Linked DNA regions of Homo sapiens: region 2 is linked to region 1. Evidence: fine-mapped QTL for protein levels in blood plasma. Region 1 holds a variant in brackets. A gene starts in the other region. All regions are shown on their forward strands.

Region 1 (5,378 bases):
GCCTGGGCATCTGTAAAGTGGGCTGGCCCTCCTGGGGCTGAGGAGCCACTGGAGCTGAGTCACAGAGGATTTCCTTGGGATTAAGAATCCTCTGAAGTCCATGGTACCTGGTTGTGGTGGAGGCAGTTGGCTCTTCCAGCCAGGCATTAATCCTAGTGAAATACATGGCATTTCCAGTCATTCCAGCTGGAATTAAACTTAAATCAAGTCCAAAAGAGCACAGCCAGGAGAATGTGAGTGAGCCTGCCAAAGACGCCAGGCGTCCGGCCTGCTCTGGCTTCTCTGATGCTGGCCTTGCTTCTCAGGAGCTGTGGGCAGTGGGGGAGGATGGAGTGGAGCACCCCACTGCACCCCAGGCCCTCCTATCTACCATGTGGCCTGGTAGCAGGCATCTCAGCCAGGTGAGACAGCAGAGTGAGGCAGCCCAGGGTCAGAGGGCTGGGATGGAGCTCTTGCTCTGCTGCTCTAAGTCCCTCTGCCCAACGCACACATATAGCTGGTGGCAGATAAGCAGCACAGCTCAGTGGGCAGGAGCGGAGGCACTGCAGCCAGTGGGCCTAAATCCCACTGTACCACTGGCTGTGTGACCACTAACCAATGACCCCTCCATGCCTCAGTTTCCTCCTTTGGAAAACAAGGATAATAATAGGTACCTCATTGTATGGTCGTAAGTGTTAAATGGGTTCATACATACAAAGAGCTTAGAACTCTGCCTGGCATACTGTGAGCACTGTGTGTTACCTATTGTTATTCTCTGGGCCTCAGTTTCCTCACCTGCAAGATGGAGCTGAGGGTAGGACTTGACAACCAAGGGTAGTCTTCATGCTGGGGTCCTCTGGCTGTGGGAGCAGCATGGGGCTCCGCAATGAACAAGGCCCTGCCCTCAGAAGGGCACCTACCCTCCAAGGAGGAACTGGCTGGACAGACAGCACTACAGGTCCCACAAGCCACCCCCCACCCTGTAGCTGTGCAAGTAAGGAAGGTGCGTGTGTGTTTGTGCATAAGTATGTGTATATGTATATGTTTGTGGGTGTGTGTGCATATATGCATGAGTATATGTATATGTATAGAGTTGACCCTTGGACAACACAAGTTGGAGCACTGACCCACGTGCACTCGAATATCCACATATAACTTGTGACACCCTGTATTAGTCTGTTCTCACGCTGCTAATTAAGACATATCCAAGACTGGGCAATTTATAAAGGAAAGAGGCTTAATTGACTCACCGTTCCACGTGGTTGGGGAGGCCTCACAATCATGGCAGAAGGCAAGGAGGAGCAAAGTCACATCTTACATGGTGGCAGGCAAGAGAGCTTCTGCAGGTGAACTCTCCTTTATAAAACCATTAGATCTTGTGAGACTTATTCATTACCATGAGAACAGTATGTAGGAAACCGCCCCATGATTCAATTATCTCCACCTGGCCCCGCCCTTAACACGTGGAGATTATTATAATTCAAAGTGAGATTTGAGTGAGGACACAGCCAAACGATATCATTCCCCCAAAACTTAAGTACTAATAGCCTACTGTTGACAGGAAGTCTTATCAATGACATAAACAGTTGGTTAACACATATTAGATACTGTATTTTTACAATAAAGTACTTTAGAGAAAAGACAGTGTTACTAAGAAAATTATAGGAGAGGAAATATTTACTATTCATTAAGTGGAAGTGGATCATCATGAAGGTCTTCATCCTCATTGTCTTCATGTTGTGTAGGCTGAGGAGGAGGAGGAGAAGGAAGAGGAGGGGTTGGTTTTGCAGTCTCAGGAGTGGCAGAGGCAGAAGAAAATTTGTGTAAAAGTCGACCCTCGCCAGTGCAAGTTCGTGTTATTCAAAGGTCAACTGTATATGTGTTTGTGAGTATGTGTGTGTTTGTGTGTATGTACATGTGCATATTTGGGTTGGTGTGTACATGTATGTACACGTGTGCATGTGCATGCGTTTGTGTGTACCTGTATATGTGTGTGTTCATGTGCATGTTTGCACATGCATGTTTGTGTATATGTATATGAATGTGTATGTGTGTGTTGGTGTTCATGCATGCATGTGTTTGTGTGTACATGAGTATGTGCATATACATGTGAGCATGGTATTTGCATGTCTGTATGTGTGTGCATGTATCTGTGTTTGTACGCATATGTGTATATGTTTGTGTATGCATGCGAGTTTACATGGATATGTGCCTGTATGGGTGTATGTATGTGTATGCATATGTATGTTTGTGTATGCATGTGTGTATACATGTTAGTTTACATGGATATGTGCATGTGTATGTGTGTATATATGTATAAATGTATATACATGTGTGCATATGTGTGCATGTGTGTGCATGTGTGTGGGAATGTGTGTGTGTGAGTGTCCATGTGGCGAGCACAGAGAGCCAGCCCATTTGGGTTCTTTGTTGGAGTGCAGATGGGAATGTGCCTCCACCTGATTTCACACCTTGGCATGAACCTGTCTGAGTGGGCAGTGGAAGTAACTCAGACCCAAGAAGGAGGGATGGGGAAATGGGGGTGGCAAGTAAGAGGTATGAAAGTGTTTTGGCCAAAGAAATTCAGCAGGATTTGGATTGAAGGGACTGAAGGATGAAAGGAAGGCCAGTTACTCTGCAGTGGATGCTGTACTCCAAGCTCTGGGGCTCTTATGTTACAGCCAAGGAAAGAAAAGTTTAGAGAAGTCGAGGAACCTGCCTCGAGTCATCAGTAGTAGAGCCAGGACTCGAGCAGGAGTATGTCTGACTCCGGGGCCTGGGCTTCTTCACCACCCTGGTTGCCTCTTAGGGAAAGGGAGACAGATGGGGATAGTGCAGTCACTGGGCCTCACTCCGCATAGCTCCATGTGCAGAGGATGCATTGACCCCTCATATTTGGGATGACAACAGGCTCCAGCGTGGGGAGTGGTCGATGCTGGGCACCAAAGAGCGAGACTCTGCAGTGCTGGATGACAGTGCCCCAGGCCTGCAGTTGGGGAGGAGTTGCTGAGCAGAAGACAGCCCTGAAGCCTTTGAAAGCCAGGGCAGGCAGGAGGGCTCCAGGAGGCCAGTGGGTGGATAGAAAAGGGACTCAGGGACTCGGCCTAGATACCAGGGTGTTAAGTTCTGTT[C/T]TAAGATATATATCTTTGGATGAGTCAAATCCCTTTTCTGAGCCTCAGTTTGTATATCTGCCAAATGGGGCCACTACCCCTCCCCAGGCCCAATCCTACCTCATAGGAAAAAGCAGATTAATGTTGGGGTTATAAGTGCAGCCTTTGATACCTTTAGATCCTTAGCTGCTGGTCAAGTCACTAAACTGTTCAGTCTGTTTTCTAGTATGTGTAATGGGGATACCAGTGGTCTCTACCTCATCGGGCTGCAAGGGTTACTCAAATAATGCCTACAAAACACTCAGAACCACACCTGGCATAAAGAAAGGGGCTAGTAAATATTAATTACCATTGATATTGCTATTTTTTTTTTTTTTTTTGTGAGACAGAGTCTCACCGTGTCACCCAGGCTGGATGCAATGGCACAGTCTCGGCTAACTGCAACCTCTGCCTCCTGGGTTCAAGCGATTCTCCTGCCTCAGCCTCCTGAGTAGCTGGGATTACAGGCGCCCACCACCATGCCTGGCTAATTTTGTATTTTTAGTAGAGACGGGGTTTCACCATGTTGGCCAGGCTGGCCTCGAACTCCTGATCTCGTGATTCACCCGTCTCAGCCTCCCAAAGTGCTGGGATTACAGGAGTGAGTCACCACACCTGGCTGATATTGCTATTATTTCCTAAGATTCTTACAAGAACAAAACAAACTTGCACAGAGGAGACTGCTGAGCTATAGAAAGGTCTGTTGGCTGGGAAGTAGACTGTATTGCTGTTTGCAATTATTCATGCCCTCGTTCCCATTGAAAGTGATACACATCCTCACCCCTTTGACTTTGGGCTTCATTGCATGGCATGCTTCAGCTCACAGAATGTGAAAGCACATGACATATGCTAGGTCTCAGCAGAAGCTGTACCACCACCATGCTTGCTTTATCCGCTGCCATTAGAATGGCCTGCCCACTCACTGTGATGTCAGTGACAAACAAATGCTCATAGTTGTGAGCCACTGAGACTTTGGGGTTGCTTGTTATCACAGCCAACCTGACATATACAGTATGAAGAAGGAGAAGGGTCTCCAAGGAGGTGTGCTGTGGCCTACTGGGGAGAAGAGGTGCTTAGTCCTGACAGCTGAAGTCAAGGAGAGGATTGGGGTAGACAAAACACACATGAACCCCATACACAGAAGCCCTCAACACTGTCTGCCCTTTATTTACACAAGTCACTGTCAGACTTAGCAGGACCCAGGAGCTAGCTAGCTTTCCCATAAGGTCTCCTGGTCCCCACTTCAAACCCAGGAGCCCCTCTCTTATTCCTGGCCTTGATTCCTGGGTTGTTCTCACTGAGGAAGGCCAAGAAGCCCTTTGCATTGGCTTCTGTTTTGTTTGCTCTCACTTGTGCCATCCTGTTGTGGACAAGAAGGAAGCACGCCAACATCAGCCCCCACCGCAGACCAAGGGAAACATTTCCCGGCCTCCGGTTGGCCATGGCTCCCTTCCCGTGGGTCCTCTTTCTAGAGCCAGGTCTGTAAACTTGGAGAGAAAATGGTTTGTTGTCCGACTTTGTCCAATCCAGAAGTGGGAACCCAAGAGGGAGAGGCCAAGGACTGTGCTGTGGTGCTGCCCTCTAGCCAGTGGGCCTCACAAGTGGTCACAGAGGGTCTGGCTGGCGGACCCCACCATCTTGCTCTGTGGAAGAGGGGCTGCTCATGGATTCTGACCTCACAGGGCCACGAAAGTTTCCATGTGGAGTGCTTTCTGTCCAGGAGGCAAAGCAAACATCTGGTTGCACAGTTCCCCTTTCCCTGCCAGCCACCATGTGGGGATTCCAGGCATTGTTCCATCGTTTCTCCGTTTGCTTTCCATACCACCTCGCTGAGCTCCGGTGGCTTTGCTCATCCCTCCCAACCAGGCAGCCATTCACAGCCTCTCACTCCTCGTGTCTGCTGCTGGCCCTGACAAGAATTTTCCTGTGGCTTTCTGTGGTCTCCAGTCCTGTCATTTACCACCCAGTGCTTGCAGGCTTTCACTGCGCTGAAGAATTTCTGGGCAAATTTTGGTCCGTGTGGTCGCTCTGGGCAATTGTCACAGAAAGCCTTGGAGAAGCCGCCTGTGCAGCCCAGCAGCACCCGGCCCCCACCCAGCTCGTGGCAGTGTGTGCTCTGTTCTGTTTGGTGCTTTCAGGGTGCAAGGACAAGAGGTGCACTCAGGCACTTTTGGGGGCTGCCAGCAGGATGTGGGGAGCAGGAGCAAAGCTTAGCCACCTCAGCCGCCTTGGTCCTCCCCATTCAACCCA
Region 2 (5,328 bases), not on the chromosome of region 1:
GAGCTTCTCAGCAGCGGTGGAGGTGGTGTACCCTCTCACGTGTTTTTATTCATTCATTCATTCATTCATCAAACATTTGTTGACCACTGTGAAACTGATTGGAACAATTCCTACCGCACGTGATGGAAAACCTCTATGGGCCATTGGCTTAAATAAGAGAGATGCTTCTTCTCCTCTGTTGTGAAACAAGCCTGGAAGTGTGCAGCCCAGGGACCAGGCTCAGGGTCACTGGGACCCAGGCTCCCTCGGCCTTGATGTGTCACCTGAAGCCATCACCTCATGGTCCAAATTCGTTGCCCACCTCCAGCCTTCACGTCCACACTCCAGGCAGCAGGAAGAAGGAATGGAAAAGGACCAAAAAGGGGGCGTACCCATGTAACCCCCTCCACCTGGAGTGTGCTGGACCTCATTCTGTACCCAGTCAGTCCTGCTCACCTGTCAGGTTCAGCTCCCCTAATCCATGCATCTCCTTCCCACGACAATGGGGTGGTTATTTGTACAATAACCATTTGTTGCATACAGTTGGCCCTCCATGTCCACAGTGGGTTGGTTCCAGGAAACCCCTGGCCACGCAAATACCGAAATCCGTGGATGCTCAAGTCCCTTATATAAAATGGCATAGTATTTGCATATAACCTACGCACATCTTCCCATATGCTTTATTTTTAATTTAACTTTTTTATTTTTGAGATGAAGTCTCACTCTGTCACCCAGATGCTGGAGTGCAGTGGCGCCGTTTCGGCTCACTGCAACCTCTGCCTCCCGGGTTCAGTTGTACAAGTGATTCTCCTGCCTCAGCGTCCCGAGTAGCTGGGATTACAGATGTCCGCCACCACATCTGGCTGAGTTTTTGTATATGTAGTAGAGAGAGGGTTTTGGCATGTTGGCCAGGCTGGTCTCGAACTCCTGACCTCAAGTGATCTGCCCGCCTCGGCCTCCCAAAGTGTTGTGATTACAGGCATAAGCCACCGCGATGGCCCTCCCACATGCTTTAAATCATCTCTAGATTACTTATAATACTGAGTATAATGTAAATGCTACATGAATAGTTGTTATACCGTATTGTTTAGGAAATAATGACAAGGAAAAAAGTCTGTACGTATTCGTACAGAGAAACCCATCCTAGGCCTACCTACAAGGACCCAGTCCATAGTGGGTTGAACCCACAGCCAGGGAACTCACAGATACAGAGGGGCCAACTGTAATGGGTCTCCGTGAGGGTCTAACTCCGCAAGGGCAGGGACCCTGCTGCTGATTTCACCACTGCAGCTCCACTGCCAGGCAATGGACGGTTGAGCTCCCGTGCAGTGGGCATGGCCCAGGTGACCCTTGACCCTTGCTTGAGTTCTCAGCTTCAGGGTGGTTTTTCCTGGTGGTGGACAGCGCTTCTAAGGAAGATGGGCTGGCTCGAAGGCAGCGGGGGACATCAGGCTTTCTGCTTGATTTCGATTACTCTAATGGTGACCCACTTTGTCTGCTGCACACTGGGCTGTCTTCAAGATGACAGGTTGACAATGACTGCCATTGGGTCATTACTGAGCAAAGAGCCATTAGCACACTGGCTGTGGTTCCAGCACAGTCTGTGCCGGGAGGCAGGTGTCTGTCATCCCAGGTGTGCTGGCCTCATTTGTCTGAAGGAATCTGCCGACCTCAGGAAACCCCAGCACGCCTTCAGGCCACTGCCTTGCTTGTCTGTAGCCTTCCCATGGTCACCGCACTTCCGGGCCAGGGTCCCAGCCAGGGTTTATACCGAGACCCACTCACCCAGACTAAGCGGGAAGCAAGACGGTGGGTGTCATCCCACGTGGAAAAAGAACTTAGGGACCTGGAGGAATCAGGCATGGGCATGTTTATTTTGAATACATGTGTCTAATTATTCAATGGAGCTTTCTTAAATGAATTCAAAATACATGTGAAGATTTGTTTCCAGTTGCTTAATGTCTTTTTAATAAGGAGGCTCTGACCAGATAACCTACCCTGAAATTTCTTTTTCGTTTGTTTTTTGTTTTTTGTTTTTCGAGACGGAGTCTCGCTCTGTCACCCAGGCTGGAGTGCAGTGGCACGATCTAGGCTCACTGCAAGCTCCGCCTCCTGGGTTCACGCCATTCTCCTGCCTCAGCCTCCCAAATAGCTGGGACCACAGGCGCCTGCCACCACTCCCGGCTAATTTTTTGTATTTTTGGTAGAGACGGGGTTTCACCATGTTAGCCAGGATGGTCTCGATCTCCTGACCTTGTGATCCACCCGCCTTGGCCTCCCAAAGTGCTGGGATTACAGGCATGAGCCACCGCACCCGGCCTGAAATTTATTTTTCTTTTTTTCCTTTCTCTTTCCTCACTTTCCTTCCTTCTCTTTTCTTCTTCTCCTTCTCCTCCTCGTCCTCCTCCTTCTTCTTCTTCTTTCTTCTTCTTCCCTTCTCTCTCTCTCTCTCTCTCTCTCCCTCCCTCCCTCCTTCTTTCTTTCTTGACAGAGACTTGCTCTGTTGCCTATGCTGGAGTGCAGGCTTGATCGTGGCTCACTGTAGCCTCAACCTCCTGGGCTCAGGTGATCCTCCCACCTCAGCCTCCTGAGCTGAGTAGCTGGGACTACAGGCACGTGCCATCATGCTTGGCTGATTTTTAAAAAATATTTATTTATTTATTTTTAGTAGAGATGAGGCCTTGCTATGTTGCCCCAGCTGGTCTTGGACTCCAGGGCTCAAGTGATCTATCTACTCACCTCAGCCTCCCAAAATGCTGGGATTACAAGCGTGAGCCACTGCGCCCAGTCTGAAGTTTCTTTGAAAGCAAAAAAGGAAACAAAAAGAGTACATAGGCCCAAATGAAGACAGCTGAAAGTTTAATGTACCTCAAATTCCAGCCCATGACTAAGGGATGGACTTTGAGTCTCTTTTCGAATCCATCTCAAGGATTTAGGTTTAGAGTTTGTGCTCCTTTAAACAGACTAAGAGCCTCTGTGACAAAGTAAATAGAGAAAATAAGTGTAGTCAAGCTCTGGCAGGATTTGGAAGGGGGCCTAACGTGGAAGAAAGGAGAAGGCTGGAATTGACTAAGATGTGCTATGCACTGGGCTGGATTTGTTCTCAGCAGAAAGCAAGAAAGAGCTCTGGGATGGTAGCAGGGCTCCCACTACCACCGGGGGCCAAAGGTTGCAGTATTTCTCAGGTAGCCAAGAGGCACCCATGAGCCCAGCCCCTGCCCACTCCCTGATGTCATCTAGACACAAGGACATGGGGCATGAGAGGACATCATTGTCACTTCTCTGCAGAGTCACAGGAACGTGCCCTCTGCTCCTCCGCCTCTCGGCTGTCCTTCTGCCCACGGCTGGCCCAGACTCTCATGGCGACTCACTGTCTCCCACGCCCCCACTCCCGGCAGGAAACCACTTCAGGGTTTACTGTGGGCTCCGAAATCAGCCTGTGAGTCCTAGTTAGGGTCCCCTGTGCCTGACTCTCCTCTCCCCAGGCTGCAAGAAATAGGGATGACCAGAAGTCAAACTGTGCCCTTGGGAACACCCCACCCCTCACCACTGTCGTGCCAGGAGTCTGTTCCTAAGACCCCTCCCCAAGTCCTGTCTCCTCCTCTTCCTCCCATAAACCACAGCAGACACTCAGCCACCAGGCTGCAGCCCTGCACCTTCTCCAGCAGCCGCTGGCCTTCGCCAGAGTTCTTGAAAGCCCAGTTGTCCTTCCCCAGCCACGTGGAGGCAGACGGATCTCTCCTGGGGGCAGCCTGTAGCTGTCTGTGCAAAGGTTCCCAAGACTAAAGTGTAGAGGACAGGTAAGATGACACTGTCATGATCATCATTCGTCCTGTGCCCTGTGGACATCAACCCACAGATGTGACATCAACCCATCTGATATTGAGCCCAGTGGGTGGGGAGATCCTAACCCAGCTGCTGCTGTTGAGGACTTGGGTGGTGTCTGGCCAGTGGGAGGGGAGGTCAGGCGAGTTTTCAGCAGATGACCCCGTGCTCTTCGGAAGCCCGGAGGTGCCACACTGTACAAGTGTGATGCCTGGGATCCTGTGCTCCCCTGATGCCTGGGAATGGGGTGAAGGAACAGCCTAGGCTTGGGTTCTCTCCTGGGTTGTTTCGGGACTTGGCCCCAGCTCAGGAAGGGTTTGTGGAGGAGCCAAGGAGGGCCTTGTTCCTGTGGGATGTCTTTGCCTTGGGCACAAGGACAGCCTCTTGCTGCTGCTCTGCCCACCGCCCACCCCTTGGCGGCCTCTGGGAGTCTGGGCTGCTCTCCCTCTGGACCTAACCAGTTGCCCAATGGCTGGACCTGCTTAAAGCTCCCTCTTACAACTGGACCAGGCAGCCAGGGGAGGCACTGAGAGGCCGAGCTTCTGAGCTGGTGCCTGTGGATGCTCGACGGTCCCGCAGCTCCCACAATGGGATGGCCAAGCAGACCCTGAGATCCACAGCCCCCCTTTAGTGAAACAGGAGGGAGGTCGCTGGGCACAGGGAGCCGGGAACGCCTGCCCTCCCCGCCATCGACGGCTCCCGAGGCCTGAACCTTCGCTCCAGCCCCAGCACAAGCCGGCCAGGGCGCAGGGCCAAGTGTTGCCCGCCATTCCCCGGGTACCCCATGACCTCCCAGCTGGGGCTGGCTCGGACTGAGGAGTCGTCCCTGCCCGTCACCCTCTGGGGTCTCCAGTGCTGCGGAGCTCAGCTGGCTTTTGCAGCGGTAGGGGCTGGGAGGAGAAGCTGCAGGGAGACCGCAGGCGTGGGACGTTGTGGGGGGTCAGGCTTGCTCTGGGGCTGGGACCCCGGGGGGAGCAGTGGGGTTGACGCCACAGCGATGACTTGGGCCACGGGTCTGGGGGCTCTCCCGCGGGGCGATTGGGCTCTGTCTTTCGGGATTAGGGTCTCTCCCACAGGGTTTGGGGTTCTCTCTGCAGATTTGGGGGAGTCTCTCCCGCGGGATGAGGGGGGGCTCTCCGCCGCACCCGCCTATGATGGCCCAGAGGACCCGAGCTCGGGTCACTCCCGTCGCCCTCGGGGCTCGGCGAGGGTGCAGGAGGCGGGCGCTGAGCCGGTGACGCGACTCCGGGCGGCTCCCGGGTGCGCCGCATATATAGCAGCGGCGGCGGTGGCGGCGGCCACACCGGGCGGCGGACACGTGGAGGGACCCGGCCCGCGCCTTCTGCCCCTGCTGCCGGCCGCGCCATGCGGTGAGCGCCCCAGGCCGCCAGAGCCCACCCGACCCGGCCCGACGCCCGGACCTGCCGCCCAGACCCGCCACCGCACCCGGACCCCGACGCTCCGAACCCGGGCGCAGCCGCAGCTCAAGGTACTACTGGCGCCGGGCCGACCCTGCGCCCCCGG

Which allele goes with the higher level. Alleles are on the strand shown, and positions count from the first base shown. The strength of an association depends on the size of the effect and on how common the allele is.
In carriers of allele T in region 1, the plasma level of the protein whose gene starts at base 5,105 in region 2 tends to be lower than with C alone (weak association).

What was found. PIP is the chance, under the fine-mapping model, that this variant and not a neighbour inherited with it causes the effect. Protein levels are from antibody-based Olink assays in UK Biobank. Linkage for the fine-mapping came from a reference panel and not from the study's own genotypes, which makes the PIPs less certain.
Region 2: it holds the start of GAL, and the variant in region 1 is fine-mapped to the plasma level of the GAL protein (UK Biobank, PIP 0.91).

What each region holds. Positions count from the first base shown.
Region 1 is chr1:117,582,413-117,587,790 of GRCh38, forward strand. No RefSeq gene overlaps it. Among named protein-coding and RNA genes, the nearest start is that of TENT5C-DT, 21 kb to the right of the region's middle. The variant C/T (reference allele first, on the strand shown) is at 3,111.
Region 2 is chr11:68,679,440-68,684,767 of GRCh38, forward strand. GAL (galanin and GMAP prepropeptide) reads left to right here and starts at 5,105. Exons shown (of 6, transcript NM_015973.5): 1 at 5,105-5,293. The region is part of intron 2 of LOC107984343 (a long non-coding RNA gene); the gene reads right to left. RefSeq lists enhancers at 3,824-4,499, 5,176-5,328.